Linked DNA regions of Homo sapiens. The protein of the gene in region 1 interacts with the protein of each later gene in a biochemical or structural test. Each region holds a gene or a part of one and is shown on either strand. Other genes may lie near its edges.

Evidence for each region.
Region 2: of the proteins of ETV4 (region 1) and UBA2, one has a biochemical effect on the other in vitro, tested with the Homo sapiens proteins (one study listed by BioGRID).

The regions. Positions count from the first base shown.
Region 1 is NC_000017.11:43,529,258-43,536,419, reverse strand, and holds part of ETV4 (ETS translocation variant 4), read left to right. Parts: coding exon of another isoform or gene 1-8; intron 9-2,434; coding exon 2,435-2,561; intron 2,562-3,071; coding exon 3,072-3,233; intron 3,234-3,480; coding exon 3,481-3,746; intron 3,747-5,984; exon of another isoform or gene 5,985-6,238; coding exon 6,239-6,313; intron 6,314-6,467; coding exon 6,468-6,536; intron 6,537-6,743; coding exon 6,744-6,916; intron 6,917-7,162.
Region 2 is NC_000019.10:34,466,230-34,471,762, forward strand, and holds the end of UBA2 (SUMO-activating enzyme subunit 2), read left to right. Parts: intron 1-648; coding exon 649-785; intron 786-2,810; coding exon 2,811-2,992; 3' UTR 2,993-5,022; downstream 5,023-5,533. UniProt on the Homo sapiens protein: The heterodimer acts as an E1 ligase for SUMO1, SUMO2, SUMO3, and probably SUMO4. It mediates ATP-dependent activation of SUMO proteins followed by formation of a thioester bond between a SUMO protein and a conserved active site cysteine residue on UBA2/SAE2.

The DNA.
Region 1 (7,162 bases):
AGAGGTCCCTGGGGAGAGGGTATAGGGAGTGGAGGATGGCAGGAAGTGAGTCATAGGATAGAGAATCACAAGAGAGCAGCTTGTTCTCTCCTAAAACACAGTGGGGTTTGATCTTAAAGACCAAGGCAATAACTGGAATGAAAACCTTGGTTGAAATCTGGGGCTTGACATGTTCTTGCTGTGTGACCTTAGAGCAGACACTATCCCTCTGGTTCTCCATTGCCTTATATCTGAAGTGAGGGGCCTGGGCCAGTTCAGCAGAGTCCAGTTCTAGTGTTGTTTGTTTGTTTGTTTGTTTGTTTTCCCCCCAAGACAGAGTCTTGCTCTGTCACCCAGGCTGGAGTGCAGTGGCACAATCTCGGCTCACTGCAACTTCCGCCTCCCGGGTTTAAGCCATTCTCCTGCCTCAGCTTCCAGAGTAGCTGGGATTACAGGCATGCACAACCACACCCAGCTAATTTTTGTATTTTTAGTAGAGATGGGGTTTCACCATGTTGGCCAGGATGGTCTCGAATTCCTGACCTTGTGATCCGCCCACCTCGGCCTCCCATAGTGTTGGGACTACAGGCGTGAGCCCAGTGCGCCCGCCCCCAGTTCTAGTATTCTAAGTCACTTCCATAAACTGGGGACAATTTTGCCTCCCAAGAGACATTTGGTAATATCTGTAGACATTTTTGGTTGTCACAGTTGAGGGTGGGGTGCTACTGGTGTCTAGTGGATAGAGAGGCCAGGGATACTGCTAAAAGCATCCTATGATGCTCAGGACCGCTCCTTACAATATTATTAATAAAACACTATCTGGCCCACAGGTCAGTAGTGCCACTGTTGAGAAACCCTGCTTTAGGCTGGGTGTGGTGGCTCACGCCTGTAATCCCAGCACTTTGGGAGGCTGAGGCGCGTGGATCACATGAGGTCAGGAGTTTGAGACCAACCTGGCCAACATGATGAAATTCCGTCTTTACTAAAATACAAAAATTAGCCGGGCATGGTGGCGTGTACCTGTAATCCCAGCTACTCAGGAGGCTGAGGCATGAGAATCGCTTGAACCTGGGAGGCGGAGGTTGCAGTGAGGCAAGATTGAGCCACTGCACTCCAGCCTGGGTGACAGAGCGAGGCTCCATCTCAAAAAAAACAAAAACCAAAAAACAAACCCTGCTTTAATGTCAGATACTTTGCTGTCAACTGTCTTCACCAGTGAAACAATGGGGCACAAAGAATCAAAAACAGCAGAGAATAGTTGGTTACAAACGGCATTTGACTGGACTGCGGTTAAAACTGAATCTCACACCGGCTTGGAACCAACTCTTTGCTGCTCAGCCTCGTGGCCAGAGTTTGGGAACCCCGCAGGGGCCACAGGAAAGGCCAGTGTTCTTCACAGATAAGTAGGAGCATGTGTATAATGTTAGTCAGCTGACATTCAAGTGGGCCAATATCCAACCTCAACCAGAAAAAGAAAGATTCTTTTATTTATTTATTTAGAGACAGAGTTTCACTCTTGTTGCCCAGGCTGGAGTGCAATGGTGTGATCTCGGCTCACTGCAACCGCTGCCTCCCAGGTTCAAGCAATTCTCCTGCCTCAGCCTCCCGAGTAGCTGGGATTAAAGGGATGTGCCACCACGCCCGGCTAATTTTTTTGTATTTTAGTAGAGATGGGGTTTCTCTATGTTGGTCAGGCTGGTCTTGAACTTCTGACTTCAGGTGATCCGCCCGCCTCGGCCTCCCAAAGTGCTGGGATTACAGGCGTGAGCCACCGCGCCCGGCCAAGAAAGATTCTTTATATCCTCAAATAAGAAAACATGTCACTCCCCTGGAATTTTCCAGGGCACTCAGGAAAACTACAGGCCCTAGGTTGGAGGTGCTCACTCCTTGAAAGTGTTTTCTGGGGCCTGGGGTTGCATTAAATGTTTTTGTTTTTTGTTTCTTTTTGAGACGGAGTCTCGCTCTGTCACCCAGGCTGGAGTGCAGTGGCATGATCTCGGCTCACTGCAATCCCCGCCTCCTGGGTTCAAGCAATTCCCTTGCCCCAGCCTCCTGAGTAGCTGGGACTACAGGCATCCGCCACCATCCCCGGCTAATTTTTTTTTGTATTTTTAGTAGAGACAGGGTTTCACCATGTTGGCCAGGCTGGTCTTGGACTCCTGCCTCCCAAAGTGCTGGGATTACAGGTGTGAGCTACCGTGCCCAGCCTAAATGTTGAACTTTAGATGGTTTATTTAGTCAATAATCAGACACTAGTCTGATGTATAAACTAGACATAATGTAAATAGCCAAAATGTTCTTGTCTCACTGCGGGTCTCAGAAAATTGATACCCAGAGAGGGAAGGAGGCTGTACCAGTCACCCAGCTGGTCCTCAAAGCTCAGAAGGTATCAGAAGCCCTGCCTGCCTCTTGTGTGACAGGCTCTGGCCTTGCTCTGTCCCCTCCACCCCCACAGTAGCTTTCCACAGCCCCACCACCAGGATCAAGAAGGAGCCCCAGAGTCCCCGCACAGACCCGGCCCTGTCCTGCAGCAGGAAGCCGCCACTCCCCTACCACCATGGCGAGCAGTGCCTTTACTCCAGGTGAGCCCCAGCCTGGACCTGGTGAAGGGTAGGAGAAGGGTTCCAGAGGAGGGAGGCAGGGGGCACCCATGAGCAGAGGCAGCAGCTGAGATGCAAGTTAGACAACAGAAAGGATTTTCTAGCACTTGTAAGGAAGCAATACAGCTAAGGATTTCCTCTGAATAGACGGAAAACGCAGCAGAGGGCCTCAGGAATATATACTGAGGCCAGAGCAGATTCTGTTTCCACCAAGAGGCCCACTGTCCCACCTAAACCATTGCTCTGAGCAACAAATCCCCCCTGTATGAATCCCAGGGGTTCAAGACTAGCCTGGGCAACAGAGGGAGACTGTCTCTGAAAAAGAAAAGAATTGGCTAGGGCTGAGTCTGTGGCTCCTGCCGTTCCCTTCTCAGCCCCCTCTATCCTTCCTTCTCCTGTAATCCCTGTGACCTCGCTTTCCTAGGAATGAAGGGTTCAAAGATGCTTTCCAGCTTCTCTGCCCCCTCACCCCTGTCTCCTTCTCAACTCCAGTGCCTATGACCCCCCCAGACAAATCGCCATCAAGTCCCCTGCCCCTGGTGCCCTTGGACAGTCGCCCCTACAGCCCTTTCCCCGGGCAGAGCAACGGAATTTCCTGAGATCCTCTGGCACCTCCCAGCCCCACCCTGGCCATGGGTACCTCGGGGAACATAGGTAAGGAGACAGGGAAACCCACTGCTCATGGGCCCAGGTGTTTTTTCAATTCCTGAGTGTTCTCCATAAAGACTTGAGCTGTGGGGTGGTAGAGGCAGGGGGCAGTGGAATAGAAAGGGAGAAATACTGACACCCCAACCCCCTACCCCCCATTCCGGAGCCCACTCTAAAAGCCTAGGAGTAACAGGCTCGAGGAAGGATTAATTTAAAGTTCTCTTCTCTTCCTTCTCCATCCAACCACATCCAGCTCCGTCTTCCAGCAGCCCCTGGACATTTGCCACTCCTTCACATCTCAGGGAGGGGGCCGGGAACCCCTCCCAGCCCCCTACCAACACCAGCTGTCGGAGCCCTGCCCACCCTATCCCCAGCAGAGCTTTAAGCAAGAATACCATGATCCCCTGTATGAACAGGCGGGCCAGCCAGCCGTGGACCAGGGTGGGGTCAATGGGCACAGGTACCCAGGGGCGGGGGTGGTGATCAAACAGGAACAGACGGACTTCGCCTACGACTCAGGTAAGAGACTGGGGTGGGGCAGGGTGGCATGTGATCAAGTGTTCAGTTAAGCCCAGAATGTCTCCCGAGTTTTTTTACATTGCTGTTTACCATTTCATACATCCAACCCACCCACCCACTTTTTTTCTTCATAATTTCAAAAGAATGTTATTTTTCTTTCTTTTTCTTTTTTTTTTTGAAATGGGGTCCTGCTCTGGCCCAGGCTAGAGTGCAGTGGCACGATCTCTGCTCACTGCAACCTCTGCCTACCGGGTTCAAGCGATTCTTGTGCCTCAGCCTCCCGAGTACCTGGGATTACAGGCACCAGCCACCGTGCCCGGCTAATTTTTGTATTTTTAGTAGAGATGGGGTTTCGCCATGCTGGCCAGGATGGTCTCGAACTCCTGACTTCATATGATCCATCGCCTCGGCCTCCCAAAGTGCTGTGATTATAGACATGAGCCACCTCACCCGGACAAATTATTACTTTTCAATGAGCAAACCTATATTCAGATTAAAAGATAAGGGGGGCCCCCGGGGCATGGTGAGTCATCTGTAATCCCAGCACTTTAGGAGGCCATGGCAGGAGGATCGTTTGAGCCCAGGAATTAGTTCAAGGCCAGCTTAGGCAACAAAGTGAGACCTCGTGTCTATTTATAAAAAAGTAAAATTAAAATAAAGGGGGATGTAGATCCTGCCCTCAGGTAGCTTGTGACTTAATAGGGAAGTTAAGGCATTTATTTCTATTTAACAGGTGTTTGAGGTTTTAATTACCTATTAAGACCAAACTACTGTGACAGGAACACGAGTGTGCAGAGTTGGGAAATACAAAGATGAATAGGATGTGTCTGGTCCCTATCCCCACAGAGGCTTAAAAATACAAAGGGATTTGAATGAAGAGAAACATGAATTTGAAACTAGCCAGGCTCATGGTTCTTGCTAGTTCTCAATAGGAGGGCAGGGTTTTCTTGTTTTGTTTTGTTTTGTTTGTTTTGAGACAGAGTCTTGCTCTGTTTGTTTGTTTTGAGATGGAGTCTTGCTCTCTCGCCCAGGCTGGAGTGCCACTGGGTTCAAGCGATTCTCATGCTTCAGCCTCCCGAATAGCTGGGGTTACAGGTGCCCATCACCATGCCCAGCTAGTTTTTGTATTTTTAGTAGAGACGGGGTTTCACCATGTTGATCAAGCTGGTAGAAGCACAGGTTAATATGTGGCTTACATATTTGAGCCTCCCAATTGATGTATGCCCTGGCCAGAGGCAAGGGCAGAGGAAGTAGGGACTTCTTTAAATTCTAGTTCCACCTGGCTGTTGACTGGAGTGAGATGCACTCACCTGTGTTCATAAATAGCTATAGTTCAAAGCCTCAAGGGCCGAAGGAGGGCCAGTCCCAGGAAGGGTCCAGAAAACCCTGCCTTTTCTTCTTTCCTCCTGGCTTTTGTTACATTAGTAGCCCTAGATCTGAGTTTATTAGAGTAGGCCCAGAGCTAGCTAGAACTTTAGAATTTCCCTTTTTGTGGTGCCCACAACCGTTCAAGGGCAGGGGGATGAACCACAACCCCCCAGGCTGTCCAACTAAGAACCGGATGGTGCTCCTGTCCTCAAATCCAGGGCATAAGCCTGAGCCAGGCTTGGCAGTGAGCTGGGGAGAGGAGGAGGGAGGCACTCTTGCCGCTGACCTTCAAAGGCTGTAGACCGGAGGGGATTGTGTTACATGCCCTTGAACTCCTGCCCCTCCCCCCAGCTACTCCTGAATGGAGTCAGGAATTCCATTCACAAAATGGAGGCATGAATGAGCCCACCCTCCCGCCTCCTCCCGGAGGTGTCATGTTTCACCATCTTCTCATTCATAGGTGGGAGTGCAGTGGGGGGAGGGCGGGAAGGGGTTGGAACTTGAACGGGTGGCTTCACACAGCCGCCTTCCCGATGTGGAGTGGGAAGGTTCCTATCCTATGGAATGGAATGAAACGAAGTGGAATGTGCTCTGTTAGACCTGAAAAAACAAGGCCCAGTGCCCACTGCCTCTTCCCCAGGTGCATGCAGGCGCACGCTCTGTTTCTGTCACACACACACACACACACACACACACGCGCGCGTGCACAGGGCTGGGAACCTGACCTGCTGACCGGACATTTTTGTCCATTCTGAGGGAGTCTTAGGCGTGGACACCGAACTCTTTCCCCGGACGTTCATCTCACCCTCCCTCCTCCCCCTGAACTCGCAGGAAACAGCTGCTCCCTGGCAGCTTGGGCCCTTCAGAACAGCTTGCCCAGCCCCCGCTGCTGCCTTCCATGGCCTCAGCCGCAGCCCTCAAGTTGAGGAGGGGTTCCAGCATCACACTCCCTCTGGGTGAACTTTCCCTGGGATTTTGTGGTTGGCAGGCAACCTGGGCAAAGAACAGTCACCAGGAAGCAGGCTGGAAGGAAGAAATTCTTGAATGTGGATAGGACTTCCTCCTCCCCTGCCCTCGAGCTCCACCCCAAGCCACTTCTCACATCACCCCTTCTTCCCCCACAGATGTCACCGGGTGCGCATCAATGTACCTCCACACAGAGGGCTTCTCTGGGCCCTCTCCAGGTGACGGGGCCATGGGTAAGGCAGCCCCCCTTCCCCTGCCAAGCCCTCCATGTTGGGGGAGGGAGCGCTGCCATGGGGGAGGGTCTCCCTGGCCAGGAGTCCCTCTGGACTCTCTGGGGTCTCATCGGTGAACCCCCAGATCTGAGCAACCCCCAATTTCCTCCACAAGGCTATGGCTATGAGAAACCTCTGCGACCATTCCCAGATGATGTCTGCGTTGTCCCTGAGAAATTTGAAGGTCAGAGAAGTGACTGTTGATGGGAGGGTCAAGGTCTTATCACGCTGTGTCCCTGCAGGAGTCACATCACGTTTCATTGTTGCAAGAGGGTGGGACCCATAGAAAAGTACCTGGGGAGACCCCTTCGAGAAATCCCTCGGGTGGGAGGCGGTTGCTTGGGGGACCAAAAGACACAAACCCCACACCTCCTATTTTCGTGTTCCCCAGGAGACATCAAGCAGGAAGGGGTCGGTGCATTTCGAGAGGGGCCGCCCTACCAGCGCCGGGGTGCCCTGCAGCTGTGGCAATTTCTGGTGGCCTTGCTGGATGACCCAACAAATGCCCATTTCATTGCCTGGACGGGCCGGGGAATGGAGTTCAAGCTCATTGAGCCTGAGGAGGTGGGCCTCTCGGATGTTCCCAGCCCTCCTTTCCAAAGTTTACAGCCTGGAGGTGGGAGAACCTGGGAAATGGTGGCACGTGCCTCCATCATGATTCTTGCTTTACCTAACCTGAATTCTTGCCAAGCCTAAGTCTGTGGGCTGATGCTTTGTTGCAGAGCTAGCTTGGCACTTTGCACCAAGAATCTCAAGTGCTCTTTCTGACCTTACCCCCATTTTTTCCTCTGCCAAGGTAGCATCTCTACC
Region 2 (5,533 bases), on another chromosome or scaffold:
AGGCTGAGGCAGAAGAATAGCTTGAAAACCTGGGAGGTAGAGGTTGCAGTGAACCGAGATCACGCTACTGCACTCTAGCCTGGGTGACAGAGTGAGACTCCGTCTCGAAAAAAAGAAAAAGATCACATTGTAAGTAGAGGATGTAGAAATCTTTTTTTGGCATTGTAGCTAAAGAAATAATGTCCAAGAGTTGCTTTAGGCCACCAAGCTTTGGACCCAGTTTTATGCTTCAGCAATAAAAGTTATTTACTGTTTTAAAGAAACAAAAAACCAAAACCTTGCCCTGATTTGAAAGTGCATGTAGAGTTTTTGATTATCACAGAAATTTGTTGTGTACCGTCTTTTTTATTATAAGTTCAGTGCTTTGAAAATTAGAATCCAAGGTGGGTATGGTTGGCTCACGCCTGTAATCCCAGCACTTTAGGAGACCAAGGTGGGAGGATGGCTTGAGCCCAAGATTTCAAGACCAGCCTGGGCAACATTATGAGACCCTATCTCTCATTTTTTTTTAAATAAAAATTAAAAAAAAAATTAGAATCCACATATTTGGTGTATACATAGTGTATGCTTTGAGGAACAACAGGATTTCTCTGGTGCTCCTTTGCTTTCTAAATAGTCATAGCAGTGACCTGTGTGATTCTCCTACAGTGAAGACCTAGGAAAGGACGTTGAATTTGAAGTTGTTGGTGATGCCCCGGAAAAAGTGGGGCCCAAACAAGCTGAAGATGCTGCCAAAAGCATAACCAATGGCAGTGATGATGGAGCTCAGCCCTCCACCTCCACAGGTGAGTATGGCCCCAGCCAGCAGGTTGTTAAATACCCACAAAGCAGAAGTAAAAACAAACTGATTATTAGGAACATTGACCATAAATCCATAAAACTACTAGAGGTGTGTATTGGTTTGGTATTGATTGTTGTAATGGAGCTTTGAATTTATGAACCATGAAGACATTTAAGGCTGGGTGTGGTGGCTTACACCTGTAATCCCAGCACTTTGAGAGGCCAAGATGGGAGTATTACTTGAGGCCAGGAGTTGGAGAACAGCCTGGGCAACACAATGAGAGACCCCCATCTCTACAAAGAAAAAAAAAAATTAACCACGCATGGTAGCGTGTACCTGTAGTCTCCGCTACTCAGGAGGCTGAAGTGGTTCACTTGAACCCAGGAGTTCGACACTGCAGTGAGCCATGATTGCACCACTGCACTGCAGCCTGGGCAACAGCAAGACCATGTCTCAAAAAAAAAAAAAAAAAAGTCATTTAAGGCCTGGCATGGTGGCTCACACCTGTAACCCCAACGCTTTGGGAGGCCGAGGCGGGCAGATCGCCTGAGCTCAGGAGTTTGACACTAACCTGGGCAACACAGGGAAATCCCATCTGTACTAAAAATACAAAAAATTAGCTGGGCGTGGCAGCATGCGTCTGTAGTCCCAGCTACTCGGGAGGCTGAGGCAGGAGGCGGAGGTTGCAGTGAGCTGGGATCGCGCCACTGCACTCCATCCAGCCTGGGTGACAGAGCGAGGCTTCCGGCTCCAAACAAACAAGTCATTTAAGACTGGGGGAAATTCTTATGGAAATTTCTTACAGAAAATAAGAACACTTTGTTATTTTTTGTTAATTGGTTTTTAACAGTTTGAAATGATAGTTTACTAGTGTGCAAAGTCAGCCTATGTAGTAGCAGGTTGGGGTTTTGTATGCTTGTTTTAAGGAGCAATAAATCCATGCATCTGACTATTTTGAGTGAACAGGTGCTTGTTAAGTATGGAATTTAGGCATGTTAGAGTTTCCTTGTCACCAGTATGACTTGGGTATAGTCCTTTCCCCTGGATTTTCAGTGCTGGTGCTTGGTATTTTTCCAAATAACTGATTGTTTACTGTATTCTGATTTGAATATTTACTCCTCTCCCTTTCTTCCTTTAGTTAGGAAACTAAAGGTTACCAGATTTTGACTTCTTTGTTTTCATTTCTTTGACCCTATGTCTGTGGCATTCTTTGGAATATGTTTACTCTTGGCTCTAATGTTCTCTTGAGAATTTTGGAGACGAACATTCAGATTATGGCCTGGGTCATTGGTTCATAACCTGTTTTTTCCCCCCTCACTGAAATTAGAAAGGTCCGTCATCTTCCTTTGAGGAAGAGACTATCTGGTAGATTTTCCAAAATCATAATTTGAAATGTACATTTATTGATTCTCTACTGTGGGTAGGTTTCCAAGGTTACAGCCATGAGTAAGATAGGTATTCTGCCTTTGATTTTGTTGGACGAGGAGATAAAACCACCTTTAGTATCAGTTCTGCATTGGGGATGGTTCCTGGCTTCATCCTCTGCTACTATGTAAGCTTGGGAAGTCATTCACTGAGTTTCCTTTCCTGGAAAGCAGATACTCATGTGATCTTCTTTATAGGGTTGTGATGATTAAATGAGTTGTCATATGCACAGTGCTCAGAACAGTTCCTGGCACATTGTAAGTGCTGTATTGTTGTTGCTATTGTTACCACTACTACCATTATTAGAATATGTACCCTCTGCTTTTCTATTGGAGAATGTGGAGGTAGAATCAAGGATGTGTAATGAGTACTTTGAGTTACATAATGCTTGTCACAATTTTTTGTTTTGATTAGAAAATAAATAGGTTCTTATATAAAACATTTAAAACAGTATGGAAATACGTAATGTGTAAAGTGAAAATGCAGCCATTCTTAAGTCTGGTGTGTATTAGAAGAGTCAGCTTTCAATTATAGAAAATACAGGTGAGCACAGGTAACTCCCACGCTTTTACCCATTTTCTTTTTCCCTTTTTTCTGAAATAAGCTCAAGAGCAAGATGACGTTCTCATAGTTGATTCAGATGAAGAAGATTCTTCAAATAATGCCGACGTCAGTGAAGAAGAGAGAAGCCGCAAGAGGAAATTAGATGAGAAAGAGAATCTCAGTGCAAAGAGGTCACGTATAGAACAGAAGGAAGAGCTTGATGATGTCATAGCATTAGATTGAACAGAAATGCCTCTAAACAGAACCCTCTTACTATTTAGTTTATCTGGGCAGAACCAGATTGTTATGTCCTTTGTTCCAAAGGGAAAAAATTGACAGCAGTGACTTGAAAATGATTCTGCTCCCTTTGAAAGCATTCATTTTGCTAGAACTGTTAGACACATTGCAGTATGCTGTATTGAAAGTAGGAATATAGTTTTAAAAACCCTTTGAACAAAGTGTGTGCATAACCAGTCATGAGATAAAACAACACAATGCATGTTGCCTTTTTAATGTAAATACCCGTAGGTATCATTAATAGTTTCAAAATATTGTGGTTTAGTAAAGTTGATACCTGGTTATAAATATTATGCCTTTATTTTTGGCTAGAAGAAGAATTATTTTTAGCCTAGATCTAACCATTTTCATACTCTTAACTGATTGAAACAGATTCAAAGAAGTATCGAGTGCTATGCATTGAAACTTGTTTTTAAATGTTAGATGGCACTATGTATATTAATGTAAAACAATGTTAATTTACTCAAGTTTTCAGTTTGTACCGCCTGGTATGTCTGTGTAAGAAGCCAATTTTTGTGTATTGTTACAGTTTCAGGTTATTTATATTCGATGTTTTGTAAAACTCAAATAACGACTATACTTATGGACCAAATAAATGGCATCTGCATTCTTGTTACACATGCCTGCACAGTTCCTGTTTCTGCTGCCTTATATCTACTGCAGGAATGTCAAATTCTTTTCATTAAAAAAAGAACTCGGTCGGGCACGGTGGCTCATGCCTGTAATCCCAGCACTTTGGAAGGCTGAGGCAGGTGGATCACCTGAGGTCAGTAGTTCAAGACCAACCTGGTCAACATGGTGAAACCCCATCTCTACTAAAAAAAAAAAAAAAAATTAGCCGGGCCTGGTGGCAGGCACCTGTAATTCCAGCTACTCAGGAGGCTAAGGCAGCAGAATTGCTTGAACCCGGGAGGCAGAGGTTGCAGTGAGCCAAGATTGTGCTATTGCTACTCCAGCCAGGGCGATGAGTGAAACTCCATCTCAAAAAAGGTTCAGAAGATCTCCACTGTTTGCCAAAGACGAGTACTTTCTTTTCTTTATTCTTGGAGACTTCACATGTAGGAAGAGTACTTTCTAAAATAAAGCTCTTCCTGCGTGTGGTGGTGGTGCACATCTGTGTTCCAGCTACTCAGGAGGCTGAGGCAGGAGGATGGCTGGAGCCCAGAAGTTCAAGGCCAGCCTGGGTAACATAGCAAGACCCTGTCTCTAAAAAATAAGTAAATAAAATAAAGCTTTTAATGGCAGTGGGTTTTTTGTTCGTTTTTGAGATGAAGCCTCACACTGTCATCTGGCCTGGAGTGCAGTGGCGCGATCCTGGCTCACTGCAGCCTCCGCCTTCCAGGTGCAAGCGATTCTCCTGTCTCAGCCTCCCCTGTAGCTGGGATTACAGGCGCCCTCCACCACGCTCAGCTAATTTTTTGTATTTTTAGTAGAGATGGGGTTTCACTATGTTGGCCAGGCTGGTCTGGAACTCCTGACCTCGTGATCCACCTGCCTCAGCCTCCCAAAGTGCTGGGATTACAGGCGTGAGCCACTGCGCCTGGCCTAATGGCAGTGTTTTTAAAATTTGGATTGTCAGCAGTTGGCCTTTGTTGAGAAAATGTGTGACTTTGCCCAAGCCCAGTAACTTGGAGCCTTGAATTTGAGATGCTGGAAAGGGAGTCCTTCCTCCTTTCTGCAGTGTTTGTCTGGGTTGTCCCCTAGTTTACCAAAGTCCATTTTGAATGTACCATCCCCAGCCCAACTCCAGCCTACAGATAGTGCCAGACCGCCAGTAGGTGGAGTAGCACTGTCTTCCTGGTCCCGGACCTCAGAGGGCTTTGCCTGTTAGGGTACTCTTATCACTCAGAGATGGGCCTTGAGTTTTCAGAGAACAGAAAGCCATTAAGCTGTTTCCCCTATTGTATTCATGTGCCCTTTGTGTTTCTGGCAATAATTTATTTTATATTTCAACTAAATTTTAAATTTCTAATTCATGTATTGTTCCTTGTGTAATTTGTACTGTACCATTCAGCTTATTAACCATTACTCCTTGTTTTCCACCATTTGTAAATTCAGCATGTAATCAGAGCTTTCAGAAAAACCATGTAGAAGACTGGGTGTGGTGGCTCACACCCATAAGCCTTGCACTTTGAGAGGCTGAGGCAGGAGGATCGTTTGAGCCCAGGAGTTTGAGACCAGCCTGAGCAACATGGCAAAACCCCATCTCTACAAAAAATACAAAAAGTAGCTGAGCCTGGTGGCACTTGCCTGTAGCCCCAGCTATTCGGGAGGCTGATGGAGGAGGATCGCTTGAGCCTGGGAGGCGGGGTGTGCAGTGAGCCAAGATTGTACCACTGTACTTCAGACTGGGTGACAGAATGAGACCCTGTCTCTGAAAAGAAAAAAAAAGTCATGTTGACTAAGACTCAGCCTTCTGGAGCCCCAGAGTGGAGTGACTTTCACCTGTGAGCTTCATCTGCCTTTAGGTTTTTAGAAGGTGTTTAA